Homo sapiens: one gene and its partners. The protein of the gene in region 3 purifies or fractionates together with the protein of the main gene of each other region. This does not show direct contact. Each region holds a gene or a part of one and is shown on either strand. Other genes may lie near its edges. The genes, in order: TOMM70, TMLHE, CPS1, CPT1A and PTPN14.

Region 1 (3,879 bases), on a different chromosome or scaffold from region 3:
AGCCAGATGTGGTAGTGCACGCTGGTAGCCCTAGCTACTCGGGAGGCTGAGGCAGGAGAATCACTTGAACCTAGGAGGTGGAGGTTGCAGCAAGCCAAGATTGTGCCACTGCACTCCAGCCTGGGCGACAGACCCTGTCTCAAGAAAAAAAAAAAAAGTATATACGTGTGTGTGTGTGTGTGTGTGTGTGTGTGTGTGTGTCTGTGTCTGTGTCTGTGTCTTTTAGCTGGACGTGGTGGTGTGCACCTGTAATCCCATCTGCCTAGAACATGGAGGTAGGGGGATTGCTTGAGCTTGAGAGTAGCCTGGGCAGCATAGCAAGACACCTCTCATGCTTTTTTGGGGGGGCAGGCGGAGACAGAGTCCCAATCTCTCACCAAGGCTGGAGTACAGTGCTATGATCTCGGCTCACTGTAGCCTCCACCTCCTAGATTCAAGCAATTCTCATGCCTCAGCCACCCGGGTAGTCGGGACTGCAGGCGTGTGCCACCATACCCAGCTATTTTTTGTATTTTTAATAGAGACGGGGTTCCGACACGTTGCCCAGGCTGGTCTCAAACTCCTGGCCTCAAGTGATCCACCCGCCTCAGCCTCCCAAAGTGTTGAGATTATAGGCATGAGCTGCCATGCCTGGCCAAGATATGCTTTTTGACTCAACAATCCTACTAGTTAGAATCTATTCCATGAAGATATTTGTATGAAGCAACTTACATTGTAAACAGCCATTCTGTCTTCCTGTTTTTATCAATTTATTGTTTAATTACTGTGGTCTGAGTCTGTGAATGTTGATTAGTGTTTGATAATTGTTTCCTCTCATTTCAGAACTCTCTTGATAGAGCCCAAGCAGCCAAGAATAAAGGCAATAAATATTTTAAAGCAGGAAAATATGAACAAGCTATTCAGTGCTATACTGAGGCTATTAGCTTGTGCCCTACAGAGAAGAATGTTGACCTTTCTACATTTTATCAAAACAGAGCTGCTGCCTTTGAACAGTTGGTATGTACTCTAGGTTGTTTCTTCTGTTCCTTTTCTTTCTCTTTATTTGCTTAAAGTTTCAGTTAAAGCTACTCAAATAAACCTAATACATTTTTTGAAGTTGTTTCAAAATTATGGGATGTTGTTCTTATTTCCATTAATTGCAAAACTTTTTAAAGAACAAATTCTATAGTTTTGCTGACTACAGATATACTCCAAAGTTAAGTATATTTCACATTTTATAAAATTAGATAGTATAGAAAGTTTCTGGTGACCCTATTCTCCTCAACAGTTTGAGGCTATTTCTTTAACTTTTTGATATTTATATGAGCTTTTGTAATATATTGCAGATATTAACTCTTTGTATTAGGAATACTTTTTTATTCTAGGACTTTTAATACTCAACCTATCAAGTTTAAACTGATTTCTATTGAACAGTACTTTCTTTAGTGTGACTTTTTTTAAATACTTTCAATTACAGCAAAAATGGAAAGAAGTGGCACAAGACTGTACAAAAGCTGTTGAACTTAATCCCAAATATGTGAAAGCTCTCTTTAGACGTGCAAAAGCCCATGAGAAGCTAGACAATAAGAAGGAATGTTTAGAAGGTGAGGGTAATTTTGTGTTTACATATGAAAATTACTTAATATTTTGTAGTCATTGGTAAATGTATATGAAACTGCCTTGTGAGTGCAAGAATCAGTTGTTTTTAAAAGTTGGATTCCTTTGCACTTAAGATTGTGTCTTCTAGTTTAAAGTAAGATTGCTGATACTTAAGTATTGTCTCTGTTCTCAACTATGGAATTAAATGACTATTAAGATTAGGAGTTTATGTACTACACATTTTAAACTTAGCAGCTAATGAGCATTAGTATAATTCTCTGAATAAGGAAATCAGAAAAGAAGTTTTAGCAAGTGATAGTGTTTCTAAGGTTCTACATATTTCATTTAATATGTATAAATATAGCTTTGAGAGCTGTGTTTATAATATGTATAAACATAGCTTTGAGATGAATCATTAAAGAAAACATTGTTTTGTGCCCTTGGTATTTTCAAACATTATTTTATACCCAATTGGAAATTATTGTTTTATACCTAATTTACACCTAATTGGAAATGATGTAATTGGTACAAAGCATCAAAGTGAATTTGTCATTCTCATTAAATGCCATAAATATTCTGTGGTCTCTGATTGGCCATTTCTCTGCTTCCAAAGCTGCAATTAACAGTATACATCCAGCCTTTAAAGTACATTCTTCTAGGTGACATGAAGCAAAACCAAAGTATAATTTTCTACAATCTAAAAGTTCTTTCCACTTAATATATTTGTCTGCTTTAAAAGCATCAGTAAAAGGAAAAGGCCCCTTTCTGAAAAGAAAAGTGTAGATTACCAAATGAGGGTATTTTAGAGAACATTTTAGCAAAATTTGAGGTTTTGTGGTGGCACATACTTTGGTAGTGTGTGAAAAGACTGTTGTTTTAGAAAAGGGAATCCTGAGTTTTGAACCAGACCTTGAAGTTACTAACACAATAACTGGCAGAGAGGAGGTTGATCGAAGTGTCACGTAGAAGAAACAGGATGGGAAAAAAGACATTGACATTGGCGCTAGCCGTGGTTATCAGGGGAATATATCAGCAGATTGACTTGATTGGTGGAGCAAGGATGTGGAATTGCAAGAAATTTAATTCGGGAAGAGACGAGACGTCCATTGTTTGAGTGCTTTGAACGAAAGGCTGAGAGGTTAAGGAACCACTTACTTTTTAATTTCAAACCACTGCATGCATCTTGAGCTGTGACATAACCAGATGAAAATGGTATTGAGGCAGATTTATTTGAGAGCTCTGTGGCAAGATGGCTTTGGAGACAGGGAATAACTCTGAGGCCTATAAACAAACACCAGACATGAGAGAGCCACACTATGTTTATATGCCTTAGAGTTGCTAGCCAGAAGAGAATGTTAGAGTGGTGAGAAACATCAGAAATCATGCAGCATAGCCCCTTTCATTTCACAGTTAAGGAAAGCAAACCCCAGAGAAGTGGAGTGACTTTCTGAGCTTTCAGTTTGGTCATAGAGAATATAAAATTAGGTATTAAGAATCAGTTAATTGGAAATGAAACAGTCCCATTTGGCCATGAATTTAGTTTGGCTTTCTGTAGTTACATTGTACCCATTTGATGCTGCTGACCATCTTTGCAATAATTTTATATTTACCCTTGTGTTTTTCATCATTTCTAGATGTCACTGCTGTGTGTATATTAGAAGGGTTCCAAAATCAACAAAGCATGCTGTTAGCCGATAAAGTTCTTAAACTCCTTGGAAAAGAGAAAGCCAAAGAAAAATATAAGGTAAATTGATCTGATTTGGGGAATGGGGGAGTACTGTGTACATTGTGAAGGGTATTTTCTAATTTATGCTGCTTAAGCTTAGGCATAGTGGTAATGGCAACAACTGCAATTAGAACTGGGTTATATTTCTTCTTCCTGTTATCTTTGGCTTTTATGGCTTGTCCTTCTTCAGTAAGAATATATGCTCTGTCCATTACTCTACCTGGAGAATATTGGAATTCATCTGTGTTAGGGATTGCCACACTGTGGCCCATAGGCCAAATCCAGTCTGCTACCTGTTTTTATAAATAATGTTCAGTCACATGTTGTTTTCAGCTGCCTTTGAGATACAACAGCGGAGTTGAGTGGTTGTGACAAACTGTATAGACTCCAAAGCCTAAAATATTTACTATCTGGCCTTTCACAGAAAAATATTTTTCTATATTATTAAAGTTTTTAAAGGTATACTGAGTAAGTTGGCATTAGTTTTAGGCTATTATTAACAGGTAGTTTAATTCAACAATCATTTATTAAACAAAGCTACATGTTTGGCATTTTGGAGGGATGGGTTCAAAGAC
Region 2 (3,879 bases), on a different chromosome or scaffold from region 3:
ATATTGCCTGTACTAGTTTACATTCCCATCAACAATGTATAAGATTTCCCCTTTCTACACATCTTCACCAGCATTTGTTGTTTCTTTAACATAAAGAGTGTAAAATCACTTTATTAGAAAGTTTAACTAATCAGTCACAAATGAACAGCATTTTTGAGCACTAAACAGAGGATTAAAATAATTTCCAAACACTAGAGAAAATTATTGAAAATTCTAATATTTTAGGCTTAAAATATCATTACCCTCATGAAAGCAAAAATCCTATAGATGATATTTTCTAATATATATATATATTCTAAGTACTATGAAATTATAATAGAAATCATCAATTAAAGTGTAACAAGTAATATCTAACCACGGGCAAATTTCTTTTAAGATCACTTTATTATATTTTATGTTATTAAATTAAATTTTGATTTTTTTAATTATTATGGGTAAATAATAGTTGTATATATTTATGGAGTGCATGTGATGTTTTGATACAGGCATACAATATGTAATGATCAAATCAGGATAATTGAGGTATCTATCATTTCAAGCCTTTATTATTTCTTTGTGTTAGGAACACTCCAGTTCTACTCTCTTAGTTATTTTTAAATATACAATAAGTTATTGTTAACTATAGTTGCCTTATTGTGCTGCCAAATACTAGATCTTATTCATTCTCTCTGTGTTTGTACATACTAACCATCCTTACTTTCAGCCTATTTTTTGTCTTTTTAATGATAGCCATTGTAACTGGGGTGAGGTGATATTGTGGTTTTGATTTGCATTTCCCTAATGATTAGTGATGTGGAGCATTTAAAAATATACCCATTTGCCATTTGTCTGCCTTCTTTGGAGAAATGTCTATTCAGAACTTTTGTCCATTTTTAAGGGAATATGTCTTTTTTGGTTATTGAGTTTGAGTTCCTTATATACTCCGGGTATTAATCTCTTGTAGATGCATAGTTTGCAAACATTTTCTCACATTCTGTGAGTTATCTCTTCACTCCGTTGATTGACTGTTTCTTAGAAATTTTCAAATTACGATACATTGTTATTAACTATAGTCATCACATGGAAAAATAGATCACTTGAACTTATTTCTCTGATCTAAAATTATGTATCCTCTGAGCAACATATCCCCAACCACCCAACCACTACTCCACAACCCACCAGCCTCTAGTACCCACCATTCTGCTCTCTATTTCTATGATATCAACTTTTTTTTTACATTACACATATGAGTGAGATCATGCAGTATTGATATTTCTGTGCCTGGCTTATTTTCACTTAATGTTCTCCAGGTTCATCCATGTTGTCACAAATGACAGGACTTTCTTCTTTTTCAAGGATGAATAGTATTCCACTTTTTATGCATACCACATTTTCTCTATATACACTCCCATGTATTCTGCCTAGATTGATTTTATATCTTGGCTATTGTGAATATTTCTGCAAAGAACATGGAAGATATCTCTCGGACATACTGATTTCATTTCCTTTGGGTATATACCCAGTGGTGAGATTGCTGGATGATGTAGTAGTTCTACTTTTAGCTTTTTTTAGAAACCTCCGTATTGTTTTCCATAATGGCTGCACTAATTCACATTCCCACCAACAGTGTGCAAGGGTTCACTTATCTCCACATCCTCATCAACATTGTTATCTTTTGTCTTTTTAATAATAGCCATCCTAAGGCGTATGAGATGATATCCCGTGGTGGTTTTAATTTGAATTTATCTGATTACTAGTGATGTTGAGCACTTTTTCATATACCTCTTGGCCATTTGTATGTCTTCTTTTGAGAAATGTCTATCCAGATCCTTTGCCCATTTTTAAATCAGGTTATTTGTTTTCTTACTATTGAGTTGTTTGAGTTCCTCAAATATTTTAGATATTAACCCCTTATCAGATGTATAGTTTGCAAATACTTTCTCCCATTCTGCAGGTTGTCTCTTCATTCTTTTGTTTCCTTTGCTGTGCAGAAGCTTTTCAGTTTGATGCAATTTCATTTACCTAGTTTTTCTTCCGTTGCTTATACTTTTGGATCATATCCAAAAGGTAATTGTATAGACCAATATCATAGAGTTATACCATGTGTTTTCTTCTAGTAGATTTACGGTGTCAGGTCTTACATGTAAGCGTTTAATCCATTTCTAGTTGATTTTTGTATATGTTGTAAGAAAAGGGTCTAATTTCATTCTTCTGCATGTGGACATCCAGTTTCCCCAGCACCGTTTATTGAATGTATAAGAGTTCTTTTCTCTCCACATACTTGCCAACGTCTGTCATTTTTGGTCTTTGTAATAACAGCCATTCTACAATGGCCATATTCCCATACTGTGGGTTGTTTCTTCACTCTGTTGATTGTTTCCCTTGCCTCACAGAAACTCTTTAGTTTAATCCAGTCTCATTTGTCTATTTCTGGGTTTTGTTTCCTGTGCTTTTGGGGAATAAAATCTTTTCCCAGAGCATTATCCTGGAGAGTCATCCCGAGGTTTTCTTCTAGCATTTTTATAATTTCTATAGCTCCTCCAAGGTCACACACCTGAACTGAGATTGTAATGGTGATCTAACTGAAAGCCTATTTATCTACCTATCTGAAAGCCCACCAGCTTTCACTTACACCACAATACACAAATCCATCAAATGCATCGTCTGCTCAATTATGGAGCTCTCTTGGGAAATACTTGTCTGTCAACTAAGAAGAAGGATAACTTTGTTAAATCTTCCTAGCTTTTCTTGTCAGATAAATGCCTGCTTTATTTGCTTTCCCCTACTCCCACGTCTCTCTTGCTTCATATCAAAGCAGGAAAAAAAGGAAAAACTGCACAATAATATGATGGCATCACTTTGTGCCAAAGTCCAGAAATAGTCTTATTCTAATCCAAAGTATTGCACAACCATTTTGCTTATGTGTAATAGACTTTTCCTGCTACTTTCTCTGTTGGCTTTAGAAAACACCACCATCTAATATAAATAGTGAATACCAAATTCCATGTAAGCTTGGACAAATCACAAGGTCTTATCATTATTTTCCTTATCTATAAAGTAAGACAATAACAGCTGTACTACTTACCTCACGTGGTTATCATGCAGAGGGTCAATCAGATAGTGTATATGGAAACATTTCTAAACTGCAAATCTCAGTTTGAAGTCAAAAGATTGTAAGTGTGATCTGTAAAAATGTTGCTCTCATGAACAAGCGTACACAGGAATTACGATCATTTTTCTGTTCTCTGGTATAAACAATGAGTTAAAGAATTAAGGACACCTGATTTCAAAACCTCTCTGCTACGTATGAACTCTGTGGCAGGTCTCTAAGTTTCAGTTGCCTTAAATGTAAAAGGAGGTTAATAACACCTTTCCTTCTGGGATGATGAAATAAGTAAATTAAATAATATTTTCACAAATGCCTAACCCAGCACTAGAAGTTTCTGGAAATGACAATGGGTGTCAACAGCCTGGTGAAGACTGTGCTTCCTCACTCCATTCTCCCTCCAGGCATGGCTCCTTGAAGCCTGGGAGGATGGACTATTATATTCTTTTTCTTTCTTTCTTTCTTTCTTTTTTTTTTTTTCTTTGAGACAGAGTCTCGCTCTGTCGCCCAGGCTGGAGTGCAGTGGCGCGATCTTGGCTCACTGCAGCGTCCGCCACCCAGGTTCAAGTGATTCTCCTGCCTCAGTCTCCCAAGTAGCTGGGACTACAGGCGCGTGCCACCGCGCCTGGCTAATTTTTTTGTTGTTTTGTTTTGTTTGTATTTTTAGTAGAGATGGGGTTTCGCCATGTTGGCCAGGCTGGTCTTGAACTCCTGGCCTCAGGTGATCTGACCGCTTTGGCCTCCCAAAGTGCTGGGATTACAGGCGTGAGCCATCGCGCCCGGCCTATTTTTGC
Region 3 (3,879 bases):
GAAATTGGTGACAAAAGATATCAAAGAGTAAGAAAAAGCACTGGCTTCAACAAGGATATTTGGCAAAATACCCTGGCATAAATCCTGGTCAGCACTGAACTCTCAAACCCCGTCTCCATTCTCCCCTGCACAGAAGGCACAATGTGTCAGAAAATCAGTGAGGTACTAGGAATAGCATCCTGCAGTGAATATGCTTGATTTACATTATTGAGGCTTGCCATTCAAAGTGCTGATATGACAGTAAATCAAACTAATTTAGGAAAAAGAGAAAATAATTGAGCAATCAGGCAGAGGGAAATGAAATTATTTCAGCAGCTAGGCTTCTGTGAAACCAGAAAATGTGATAAGTGTGAATAAATATGGAAAAATAAGTCTAAAGACTCTGGCTCTCTCTAAAATAGCTGAGGGTGCTTTGTACAGTGACACACACAATAAAAGTTAGTTGATGTTGATGAGGAGGAGAAAGGAGATGATGATGGTTGTAAACGGTTAGCCAAGATGGCATATAAAACTTGAGAATTAGAAGAATCATATGGGACTATTATTATGGTTAATCACTGCCTAAATGCTTAAATACTCTGAGTCATATATCATGTATGCCTGATTAGACAGATATGAATTAGCATAATTATAATTTCATATTTACGGCACACCCACAATGGGTAGAATACTGAACCCAAAATAGGAAAGTGGTAATCTTTGACCTTAGGACATGCAGTGGCTGATAATCCAAGGGAGAAATGTCTTATTGTCTTATAATATATTTGATTTGGATTGACAGTGAAAGGGAAAGCAGTTTGAATTTTTTCAAATTATTAATAGGCATTAAAATAATAATTTAATGTAAGTTTTTCTGTAATGTGCCTTAATAGGATTTTTTTAAACTTCAGTCATCACTACAGGCTCCAGCACGTGCAAATGAAAATGTGACACATTTGTCCCCACAGCTGCCCACGATGAGGTTCTCAAAGTGGTTAGAAAATTCAGTAGCCAATGTTAACAATTTAATAATGATTAATTCATCATTCCGGTTGCCTGCTAAAAGAAGAAATCTAGGAAACAAAGGGTATAAATTTGGAAAAGTATTTTGCATTCTAATGAAGTAAAATGGATATTTAGATACAGGGAAAATTTGAAATTATCTTCACCTGTTTCCTCAGCTTATTTTTATTTTTATTTTTTGAAGTCTTCGATTTTATGTAAAAAGTTAATTTAGGGACCTGGATAAGTTAATGCAGCTTTTAATGGTGCTAATTATAACCTCAAGAGAATAGGGGATTGTTTAGGACATAATGATATGACTAATTATTCTCAAGGGAAGAGCGAGGGTTTTTTTCAACAAGAAAAACCATTTAAGGGACTATTGATTATTTGAGTACAATATAAATAATTGAAAGCTATTTCATTCCAAAATTCTCTTTATTATAAACTTTCTTACATGAAAAGTTCAGTCTTCAGATTGGTTTCTTATAGAGTAAAAAAATTAATAGAGAATATGTATACACTGTCACAATTGGCAGTTATGAAGTTGTTAATATTGAAAATATTTGGAGCCTCTAACATGCTAGAGGAAATAAACTTTCTATCTTCAAAAACATGTTTTTGCTCTAAATATGTGATTCATATGTCCAGAATGGTAACAAGAAACATTTATGTGAGGTATGTTTCCCTTTTTTGTAATTTTCACAACTTTAGAAAAACGAAACCCAAGTTGTTTATATGTAAGTCTGCCATTGTAGTTATTTAAATATGCTGAATTGTACTTATCTGTTTTCAAAATTCTATGTCAACAATTCAAGGGTCTCATTTCACTTCAGTTCAAAAAGTAAGTAAAGATGAAGCAATAAGCTGTCCGTGAGCTATTTCCTAAATAATTCCCAAAATAGCCCTTACAGTAATTCTGTCAAATTCACTTCTATGACTGCCATGTAAGTTACACAGGTTTCTTGGCTGCACGTGTAATCATTCTTCAAAGACATTATTGAACTCCTGGTATTTCCAGGCACTGTTCTATTTTGTGGAAATAGAGTATAGACAAAAGTCTCTGTTTTCCTGGAGCATATTTTCTGCATTAGTCTCTAATTTAGTTTTTGTAGCATAGCTTACTTTTCTCAAGAGTTTTCCTCTAACATGCAAAGAAAGAAGTAGTTCCTAATATGTTAAAGTGATTTTGATAGAAAATAAATTATAAACCCTCAAATCTCTCGTGTTTTTATGAGTATATGGCAGTTGGTGGAGTTCAGTCATTTACTGTATTGAGTGGTTTATACCATGTATATTTTAGACACCTTAATTTTGAGTAAAGTCAAACTACTCAATGTGCTTTGTTTCACTTTCTGGATGTCACCCATGCCAGCCACATTATTTCTAAAAAATTAAAAATGAGACATTATGTCCTATTTTTCCTTAACCACTAAAACATATTTTAGCATTTTAAATATTTGAGAGTAGATTTTGAAACAAAGGAAGAAGGAGTTGAATTAAGTTCATCTCCTTGAAGTCAATAGATTGTACTATAAAAGTGGAATTTGAGGTAAAGTGACCACTGGTTTACCTTGAACCATGTGGTTTATCATTGCATCCTGGCATGAAGAGTTGCACTGCATGCTCTCGCAAAAGTGTCATCTTTTGGAATACGCTTTTGGAGAACATGATCATGATTTAATAAAGAAAATGTAATTTCTCATCTACATAACTTTCTCTAGTTGAAAAGGTCTATCAAGCCAGTTTTTTTGGTTGGTAAGAATATTGTCTACAAAAATACATACCTTTGTGCTGAGGTCCATCAAAGTCTCTCTGTTGGGACAGATGCCTGAGCCTAACCCACCCAGTGCATAGGCGGAACGGATCATCACTGGGTAGCCAATGGTGTCTGCTGCCTTCAGTGCATCCTCAATCTGTCAACAAGAACAAGGACTCAACATTTTAAAAGCTGAGCACACTGGCAGAACAGACCACACCAAGAGAGTCTGGCAATCAGGTAAACCAACTTATGTGGGGAGAGTGAATCTAGAAATGTTCTATTATTCCCTCATCTCATTCTGAAAAGCAAGTGTTGTTACTCAAATGTTAAGTAAAATTCTAGAAGGGAGGATATATATATATATATCTTCTAAGAAATACACTTTTGCGGTAAATTTTATCCTGTCCTATTGAAACAGAACCATGGTCAAAGCAGAAATAATCATCATTCATTTGAGAATGGCAGCCATATTGAATTATTGGATTTTTACGATTTTTACATGCAGCTTAAAAGTCTCTGTCTTAATGAAACCAGGTTCTCTGCTGCTGAAGCTAGCTTGATGTTACCACAATAAGCCATTAGGAACACTGTATATAAATGGATTTTTCATTTTCAAGTTCAGTCTGAGCATAGTCCCAGAAGCTTGGAATTCTTTTTTTTAACTTACAGAATACAACATATGGTGGCTATATTTTTCTGTCATGGAATATTATTACACTACCAATGGGAATGTAATTACACCTTTCCCATATGCCTGTTTCTTTTCCTGAGGAAGCAAGGACATAATTAAATCTGGCAATGAAAGAACAAATGTATGGCAAGAGCTTCCCAAATTGTGCAGCAGAGTTATCCTGGGATTATTTGATTGACAAGTTTGTAACACAAAAGATACTTGGTAGCATTGTCTTCTGAAACATACATAACCCATTTTTAGTTGTCCCAGCAGTACCTGCTTTATTCCTAAGGGTGTGCCTGTTTCTACCATGGAGAAGTTGGATTTAACACTGCCCCTAGCACCTCCACTTCACCAGCTATGAGCCTGAAGTCAAAAATAAAGTCAGGGGCAAAAACAGATATAAAGTGAGTTGATTCTTTTTCCTGGTAACTGTTAATAGCTTATTGATAGGCATAAGGGG
Region 4 (3,879 bases), on a different chromosome or scaffold from region 3:
CCAGGAGTTCAAGACCAGCCTGGGAAACATGGTGAAACCACATTTCTACAAAAAATACAAAAATCAGCCAGGTGTGGTGGCACTCCCCTATAGTCCCAGCTACTCAGGAGGCTGAAGTAGGAGGATCCCCTGAGCCCAGGAGGCTGAAGCTGCAGTGAGCCGAGATCACACCACTGCACTCTAGCCTGGGTGGCAGAGTGAGACCCTGTCTAAAACAAACAAACAAACAAACAACAAAAGAAAACCGCAGTGAACAAATAAACCCCAACTTCCTCTGTTAACAGCGACAGTGGCATGGGTTGCCAGGCTATGTACGACAAGGAAAGCAGAATATAAATAAGGGCAATGTGCCATGCTAGGGAGGAGGTCCCTTGTTCCATCCACAGAGGAAGCCGGGGGTCCCCTGCTCTGTATGCAGATTTCTTAGTGTGTACCCATTATTTTTAGTTCATCTTCCAAGTGCTAAAGAGTCTGAAAGTTACAGCAGCACTCCAACGTTAAGCTTCAAAACCATTGCTGCCAACAGAGGTAAACATGTTAAACCAAATTAGATACATTTCCTTTTTTTTTTTTTTTTTTCTGAGACGGAGTCTCACTCCATCACCCAGGCTGGAGTGCAGTGGCATGATCCTGGCTCACTACAACCTCCACCTCCCGGGTTCAAGCGATTCTCCTACCTCAGCCTCCTGAGTAGCTGGGATTACAGGCGTGTGCCACCACACCAGCTAAGTTTTGTATTTTTAGTAGAGGCGGGGTTTCACCATGTTGGCCAGGATGGTTTCAAACTCCTCACCTCAAGTGATTGGCCAGCCTCAGCCTCCCAAAGTGCTGAGATTATAGGTGTGAGCCACCGTGCCTGGCTGAGATACATTTGTTTAAAACTAGGTAAAGAGAATTTTGAAATTCACTTATGGCTGGGCACAGTGGCTGAAGCCTGTAATCCCAACACTGGGAGGCTGAGGTAAGAGGATCGCGTGAGCCCAGGAGTTCAAGACTTGCCTGGGAAATGTGGGGAGACCCTGTCTGTACAAACAATTTTTTAATTAAAAAAATTTAGGCCAGGCGCGGTGGCTCATGCCTGTAATCTCAGCACTTTGGGAGGTCGAGGCAGGTGGATCATCTGAGGTCAGGAGTTTGAGACCAGCCTGCCCAACATGGTGAAACCCTGTCTCTACTAAAAATACAAAAAAATTAGCCGGGGTAGTGGCGGGTGCCTGTAGTCCCAGCTACTTGGGAGGCTGAGGCAGGAGAATCACTTGAGCCCGGGAGGCAGAGGTTACAGTGAGCCAAGATCTCGCCCCTGCACTCCAGCCTGGGCGACAGAGTGAGACTGTGTCTCCAAAAAAAAAAAAATTTTTTTTTAAAAGCAGTCCATTTATGTGAAAATTCCCGAAATCAAGTAAAAGCAGGCAGTTGAATTGACTTTTTCTGTCAAATTAAAGATGTGTTTCCTTAAAAAGAATAAAGCAAAAATACCCCATCTTCAGAAAAAGGAACTTCTTTTCATACATACCGTCTCAGGGCAAGAGAACTTGGAAGAAATGTGGAAATTGATGAGGTTCTCTCCCACAAGGATGTACGACACACCATAGCCGTCATCAGCAACCTGGAGGACAAGGGAATTTGAATTTGTTGCTGGGAAATGAGACAACGTGAAAAAGGGACTTTCTAATGTTCTAAATGCAACACTGGCGGGGCTCGGTGGCTTCTCCTTGTAATCCCAGCATTTTGGGAGGCTGAGGCAGGCGGGTCACTTGAGCCCAGGGGTTCGAGACCAGCCCGGACAACATGGTGAAACCCTGTCTCTACAAAAAAATACACACACACACACAAATTAGCTGGGCATGGTGGCATGCATCTGTAGTCCCAGCTACTCAGGAGGTGGAGGTGGGAGGATCACCTGAGATGGGGGAGATTCAGGCTGCCATGAGCCATGATCATGCTTACTGCACTCCAGCCTGGGTGACAGAGCGAGACCTTGTCTCAAAAAAATAAAAAATAAGTGCAAGACTGCCAAGGACATCCATAGCAATGATCAGCAGTAATTCCTTTACGGCGGTAGAACCGCAAGGTAACGGGGGCACCCAGCACGGAGATGGGCCCATCACACCCCATTACCCATCCCATCACCACGCCCCACTGCGCCTCGCCCAGCCCCGCCGCACTCACCGGTCCAAAGCCCCCTCCGCTGGACACGTACTCTGGGTTATTCTCCAAGTCAAACAGCTCCACTTGCTGCTGAGGGGTCTGGCTTGTTGATAATCTCCAAGGCTCAGATAAAACCTATTGAGTGAAACAGGGAAATGTTTCCTAATCCCCTCCTCTACCGTCCCTCAGGAGTCGCTTTGGGAAGACGAGAAAAGCCTGGCTTGGTCTTTTGATTGTTCCACACACCACAAGTCTATGTCTCCAAAGGCCTCACTGGCTTGGGCAGCGTATCTGCAGAGAGCATGCGGGGTGGGTGGGGCCCCCAGACTGGGGCAGGGAGTGCAGGGTGGGGGTGGGGGCATACCAGCAAATAGCATCTCAGACAGTGAAGGTAACAGATATATGGAGTAAGATTCGGAACGGGGACAGAGGTGTCAGACTTGTACCAACTCCCACGAGCCAGCTGCCATATTTTCAGAGAATTTTCAAGCTGGCTATTAAATACAGCCACTATTAAAAATTAAATTTGCCAGGCGCAATGGTTCATGTCTGTAATCTCAGCACTTTGGGAACCCGACGCGGGTGGATTGCCTGAGCTCAGGAGTTCGAGACCAGCCTGGGCAACACGGTGAAACCCCGTCTCTACTAAAATACAACAACAAAAAAAATTAGCCAGGCATGGCAGCGTGTGCCTGTAATCCCAGCTACTTGGGAGGCTGAGGCAGGAGAATAGCTTGAACCCGGGAGGCGGAGGTTTCAGTGAGCCAAGATGGCGCCACTGCACTCCAGCCTGGGTGACAGAGCGAGACTCCATCTCCAAAAAATAAAAAATAAATAAATAAATAAATAAAACTTAAATTAAATTTGAGCTGGGCACAGTGGTGCACATCAGCTACTCAGCAGGCTAAGGACGAAGAATTGCTTGTGTCTAGGAGTTTGAGCCCAGCCTGGGCAACACTGTAAGACCCTGTCTCAAAAAACAATAATAATATATTTCATAAACTTACAATAAAATAAAGGATTTTTAAAACAAAGGTGGTACGCGCTCACAGCTCATCACTCCCTAGTTACTTCCGTGCGTCTTACTGTGACGTAAGCTCTCGAGGTCTTCGGGTCTATTAAGTCAGGGGCTACATGTGACAGCGAAGTTTTTGAAGAAATGCAGTACTAAACGCGCTGCTCACATTTTCCATTTTATGACAGCTACACCCACAGACCCGTTTTTTTCAAATGCCCATTCTGACATTAAAATATGTTCATGCAAGGCTGTAGTAATTTACTAAGTTTTGGTCTAGCCAATACAACTGACGGAAGAAGTGGAAGAGACTTACTTCCTTAAGGAAAGGGGACTCCACAGCGAGATATTTAGACACCACGTAAAGGCAGAAGAGGTGACGATCGATCCCAGAGCCGGTCATGGCGAGGCGATACATATGCTGATGCTTCTCAGACGCCAACTTGAACAACTTCAGCCTCTGTTCCACCTGAGTGACAAAAGGTGGGAAGGACATATGTTGCATGTCTCAAGTTGAGCAGTTACGGATCTAAGTTAGCCACCGCACCCGGCTAATATTTTTTGTTATTTTTAGTAGAGACGGGGTTTCAACATGTTGCCCAGGGTGGTTTCGAACTCCTGAGCTCAGGCAATCCGCCCACCTCATCCTCCCAAAGTACTGGGATTACAGGCGTGAGTCACCGCGCCCGGTCTGACAGCCTTTCCAGAATGAAGTT
Region 5 (4,536 bases), on a different chromosome or scaffold from region 3:
AATGAAGCTCAAATGCAAGAATTTGATGAAATCCTTGTTCAAAAATGACAAGAATATGGAACCCAGGGGGGCTATAATATGTAATCAAAGGGTTGATGTTTGCTTCCCCGGAGCAAATTTAAACCTCTAATAAGGAAGGAAGGCACTGGAAAATAAAAAATCCTCATAGTTCTTGACACTTAGCCCATCCGTTCAGGGCAAATAAGAATTATTCTAAAAATTCTGATTTTTCTCTGAATTCCTTATGGTGCTTCCCTATTAAAAGCCTAACTGTCCTTTCTATTACAGCTACCAGCATGACACAGTATGCACAAATCTGAATAACTCAAGTGTTAATAATAATTACATGTTTAAGCCAATGATGGAAACTGGGCAAATGTCTGGGATTAGTGGGAGTGGGCTTCTCTTCAGCCATTTCTCTCATGCAGGTCCCTACACCTTCAGGAAAACTTCTGTGAAGGGGCTGTTCCTGAGATAAGAAAAGATGCTGGTAGAGGGGCTTGGATAAACACCCAAAGTTGTAGGAAGTCAGTGTGTTCTTCCCACTCTGATGTACTGGCCTGAGGTCACCAAAAGCTGGATGTCTGCCACCTCAGCCAGGACTCAGCCACTATGAACAATACTACAACACCACTTCAGTCCAGTGAAGAGACACCCTTGAAAGGCAAACCACGTACAGAATGCTACTGCATTGTAAGAAACTTTTCTAGGCAGGATTTGCTGAATCCTGGGCCATTAGTCTACAAAAATGTGCAAGATAGTGTTTTCTATTTTCATAAAGTTTCAGAGAAAAGAACGACTTTAGCACAACTGTGCTAAAGCAATAGTAATGACTTAAAAGCAGAGAAAAGTATAACAAACTTAGTGACATACAGATGAACGAATTTTGCACCTCATGGCCACCCATTCAGACTGGGCAAAAAGGGCATCATGCCATTCAGCTCCCGCTCATTAAGGCTGTCATTTCTATGGCACAAGCTTCAACCTCATCACCAAACAATTAGCTAACTTTATAATACAAGGTCCGTAATGCTGCGGTATTACCACACCTACGGCTGTCAAACAGCCTTTTTAAAAAAGGAATCATTGCTTGAATGTGGGGGACAAAAAAGAAGAATCAATACCATTTTAATGAAACCGAGCATGGGCCAATTAAAATGTAGATGATCATACAACAGCTGCTTGTGGTAAAACAGCAGCAGGCATGGAGGTGTATCCAATTAGGGAGGCCTTGGCTCCTCGGTAAGCTACTTGTGGTTCCCATAAGTGGCTAACGTGCTTCTAGATTTATTTCTGATATTGGGGGTGGAGAGAATGCTATCCCAGCAACACTGCACCAACATGGCCATAAATGCCCCTCAGGCCCCCAGATGGCTAGGGAAACTTTCTGTCCTTCTTGTGTTCACTCTGCACGAGCTGTTTCCTCTGCCTGGAATACACCCTCCAGAGGAGCACAACCTCTATCCTCTAAGTGTAGTGCACCCTTCACCAGGACCAAGCTCGCCTCAGACTCTCACAGAACCCCTCTTCCATGTATTATCATTCTTCACCGGCCTTCAAGTTTCCTCCACTAGGCTGCAGACTCCTGCCCTGTGATCTCATTTAGCATCTTTCTATCCTGTTCCTAGCAGAGTAGAAGCTGGGTTTGTTGGATGAATGAGTAAACTAATCCATTTCAAGAAGTTAACACATTGGTGGAAACTCTGTAACTGCCCGCACCTGCAGTCTAGAGATTCCTCACCTTCACAAAGAACCTGCGACAGCCAGTCCCTAGACTTAAGCGGAAACCCCACAATTTCTGAAATTGTAGGTGGGGATGAGAAGGTTGGAGAACAAGAACCCAAGGAAGTGAGAGGGAAAGGGAGATAGGGGCAGCGTTACCTCACTGCTCTCTCCAAACGAAAAGGTGTAAACCCCATTTACAAGTATTCAAACCTGAGATCTGGGGGTCACGTGGGGAAGGAGAGGCTGTTAATACCTACAACTTTGGAAGTTTGAGGTGAAGACCTGATCTGAAATTGTTTGGCCACAGCTTTTTTTCTACGAGCCAGCTCGACCACCCAAGTAGGAGCCTCGACGCCCAGGAGTTCGGTGGCACCACTGGGGCCTAGTGAGAGGGCAGGAAAACTCCGCTCCCCTCAAGATTCCTTCCCGGTGGTGGTGGGGTGTGATTGGGAGCGTCGGGCAGCTGCATCCCCCTACCGCTGCAGCGACCGCGACGTCGTTCGTCTTTCATCCTCTAGCCCCCAAGGTCTAGGTATCTCTAGTTGCCCTTCCGAGGCCCTCTCTCGTTCCCAAAACGCAGAAGGGAATGGAGAGAGGGGACCAGGGTGTGGGTTTAACCACAAACTCCCCAGACTGCGCTCACCTTCCAGCTCGCTCCCGGGACCAGCTTTGCGCCTCACCGCGGGCAGCTCCCACCGCGAGATAACACCCCTGCGGCCCGGCCACCCCGCGCCCCAGGCTGCCCTGCCAGGCGTCCCGGGGCGCCAATCGCAAGTTGGCGTTGCCAGCGTCTGCCCAAGTCATCTGCAGGGCGCCCGGAGCGCCAAGGCGGCCTCCAACCTCGGGCCCAACTCCCGGCTTGGACGGGGCTTACCTGCTTACATGGCCCCCGTGGCGCCCCGGAGTCCCGCGCGGAAAGGCTGTCCTTCGCGGCGGCGGAGCCGATTCCCCACGGAATTGATTCCAGTGACTGGCGGAGGAGGGGCGAAGGGAAGGAGCCGCAGGAGGCGAAAGGGGAGGGAGGTTTCCGCCGCGATCCCGGCGCGAGAGTCCGAGCAGAGGCGCACCGGGGGAGAAAAGGAGAAAAACCTAAGCACGGGGCTGTCCCGCCCGAGGAGGCCGGGGAGGATGGCTCAGCTGGGAGGGGAAGGAGCGCCAGTGGCCACTTGATGTCTGTCTAGGGCTCCCCGAGGACCTGAGCCAGGAGAGCAGGCGGCTGAGCCCGGAGAAGCACAGCAACCTGCCCCCGAGTCTGCGCCCGCTGCGCTCACTCCGCCGAGAAAAAGTTGGAAAGAACTTTGAGGGGCCGGGAGAGCCAGAGCGGCAGGAAATGCGAGCGGCCGGGAGAGGAGGGAGGAAGGGGCCGTGCGAGTGGGAGGGGACGGAGCAGGCGCCGGCGGCCACGGCTCCCCCACCCCAGAGCCGGGCTCCGCGGCCCTGGGGGCCGGGAGGCGGAGGGAGCGCTGGGCGCGCGGCCGGGGGCGGGGAGGAATGCGGCCCGGGAGGGCGCGCGCCGGGGGCGCCGCGGGCGCGCGCTGAAACGTGGAGCCCCAGCTCCCGAGCTCCCGAGCTGGAGGCGCGCCGTCCTTGGGGACGTCACAGCGCTGGAATCCGAGGAATGCCGGGCTGCAGGAGCTCCTTCTGCAGGCCCGGAGAAGTCGCACACTTTTAATGGGGTAGTTTTGGAAAATGTTTTAAAAGGTGGGGGCCGAGGACGGAGGACCGGATGAAACTCCCTGGAGTAAGAGACGTGGAAGTGGAGAGAGCAAGGCGACCGCAGCCACCCCAACCCTGGGCTGCTCCCGCCGTTGGGGAGAAAGAGGCAAGGCAAGGAAGAGCCCACCTAGACTTCCGAGGACCGCAGAGACGGGGCGGCGGCAGGAACTTGCTCACCCCGACCTACATTCAGAATAGTCCACCTTATATTGGGGAACCCTCCAAGCAGGACGTTTCATGCAGCCACCCCACAGGGGAAAACAGACCAGGAGAAAGTAAGGTGGCCTCACCAAGTAGGCAATCTCAGAGATCTCTCCCTAGAATCTCTGGGTACTGGACCCGGTGTCTTAGCCTTCTCTCCCTGCCCCCTCCCGCCCCGTAGGAATGATAAAAAGCAGCCTGTGTGCTGAGAGTTGGAAAATGTCGTTTTCCCGGTTTGTTCCATGCCACAGAATCGCCCCACCCTGCCTGGGTAGGCACTGGGAGGGAACTTCCTTAGCACTTTCGGAGGTGGAGTTAATGAGACGCAGCTGGTATGATGGAAAAAGCTCGGAGCCAGGCGACTGAACCTGGGTTTTAGGCCCTGCCCGATTGGATAACTGAGGAGTATCCCAGCCCCTGAGATCCTAGGTTTCTGTAGCTGCAAAATTAAATAATTTGTCTAGATTTCTGTGGTCCTTTGCATTGCTACAAACATGTCTTGGGATTTATCTCGGTAAGATTCCAGTCCTTTGTTGAAAAGGGACCTTGAAGTCGTTGGCACACAATGTATTGTCCCAAATCACTTCAGTGTCCGGCAACTCATGCAAAAATTCCTGGCCTCTTGGGGAAGAGAATTGGAAACCAAAAAGCGCGGTGGCTCACACCTGTAATCCCAGCACTTTGGGAAGCCAAAGCTGGGGGATTGGCTGAGCTCAGAAGTTCGACACCAGCCCGGGCAACACGGTGAAACCCCGTCTCTACTAAAATTCAAAAAATGTTTCGGGGGTGGCGGCGTGCGCCTGTAGTCCCAGCTACTCTGGGGCTGAGGCAGGTTAATTGCTTGAACTTGGGAGGCGGAGGTTGCAGTGAGCCGAGATCGCGCCACTGCACTCC

Evidence for each region.
Region 1: the proteins of CPS1 (region 3) and TOMM70 fractionate together in Homo sapiens (co-fractionation; one large-scale study listed by BioGRID). This does not show direct contact.
Region 2: the proteins of CPS1 (region 3) and TMLHE purify together in Homo sapiens (co-immunoprecipitation; one large-scale study listed by IntAct). This does not show direct contact.
Region 4: the proteins of CPS1 (region 3) and CPT1A fractionate together in Homo sapiens (co-fractionation; one large-scale study listed by BioGRID). This does not show direct contact.
Region 5: the proteins of CPS1 (region 3) and PTPN14 purify together in Homo sapiens (co-immunoprecipitation; one large-scale study listed by IntAct). This does not show direct contact.

The regions. Positions count from the first base shown.
Region 1 is NC_000003.12:100,383,922-100,387,800, reverse strand, and holds part of TOMM70 (mitochondrial import receptor subunit TOM70), read left to right. Parts: intron 1-822; coding exon 823-996; intron 997-1,456; coding exon 1,457-1,583; intron 1,584-3,212; coding exon 3,213-3,322; intron 3,323-3,879. UniProt on the Homo sapiens protein: Acts as a receptor of the preprotein translocase complex of the outer mitochondrial membrane (TOM complex). Recognizes and mediates the translocation of mitochondrial preproteins from the cytosol into the mitochondria in a chaperone dependent manner.
Region 2 is NC_000023.11:155,494,331-155,498,209, reverse strand, and holds part of TMLHE (trimethyllysine dioxygenase, mitochondrial isoform 1 precursor), read left to right. Parts: intron 1-3,879. UniProt on the Homo sapiens protein: Converts trimethyllysine (TML) into hydroxytrimethyllysine (HTML).
Region 3 is NC_000002.12:210,601,220-210,605,098, reverse strand, and holds part of CPS1 (carbamoyl-phosphate synthase [ammonia], mitochondrial isoform b precursor), read right to left. Parts: intron 2,898-3,879; coding exon 2,769-2,897; intron 1-2,768. UniProt on the Homo sapiens protein: Involved in the urea cycle of ureotelic animals where the enzyme plays an important role in removing excess ammonia from the cell.
Region 4 is NC_000011.10:68,758,056-68,761,934, forward strand, and holds part of CPT1A (carnitine O-palmitoyltransferase 1, liver isoform), read right to left. Parts: intron 3,633-3,879; coding exon 3,480-3,632; intron 2,284-3,479; coding exon 2,170-2,283; intron 1,607-2,169; coding exon 1,514-1,606; intron 1-1,513. UniProt on the Homo sapiens protein: Catalyzes the transfer of the acyl group of long-chain fatty acid-CoA conjugates onto carnitine, an essential step for the mitochondrial uptake of long-chain fatty acids and their subsequent beta-oxidation in the mitochondrion.
Region 5 is NC_000001.11:214,548,584-214,553,119, forward strand, and holds the start of PTPN14 (tyrosine-protein phosphatase non-receptor type 14), read right to left. Parts: upstream 3,020-4,536; 5' UTR 2,600-3,019; exon of another isoform or gene 2,369-2,599; intron 1-2,368. UniProt on the Homo sapiens protein: Protein tyrosine phosphatase which may play a role in the regulation of lymphangiogenesis, cell-cell adhesion, cell-matrix adhesion, cell migration, cell growth and also regulates TGF-beta gene expression, thereby modulating epithelial-mesenchymal transition.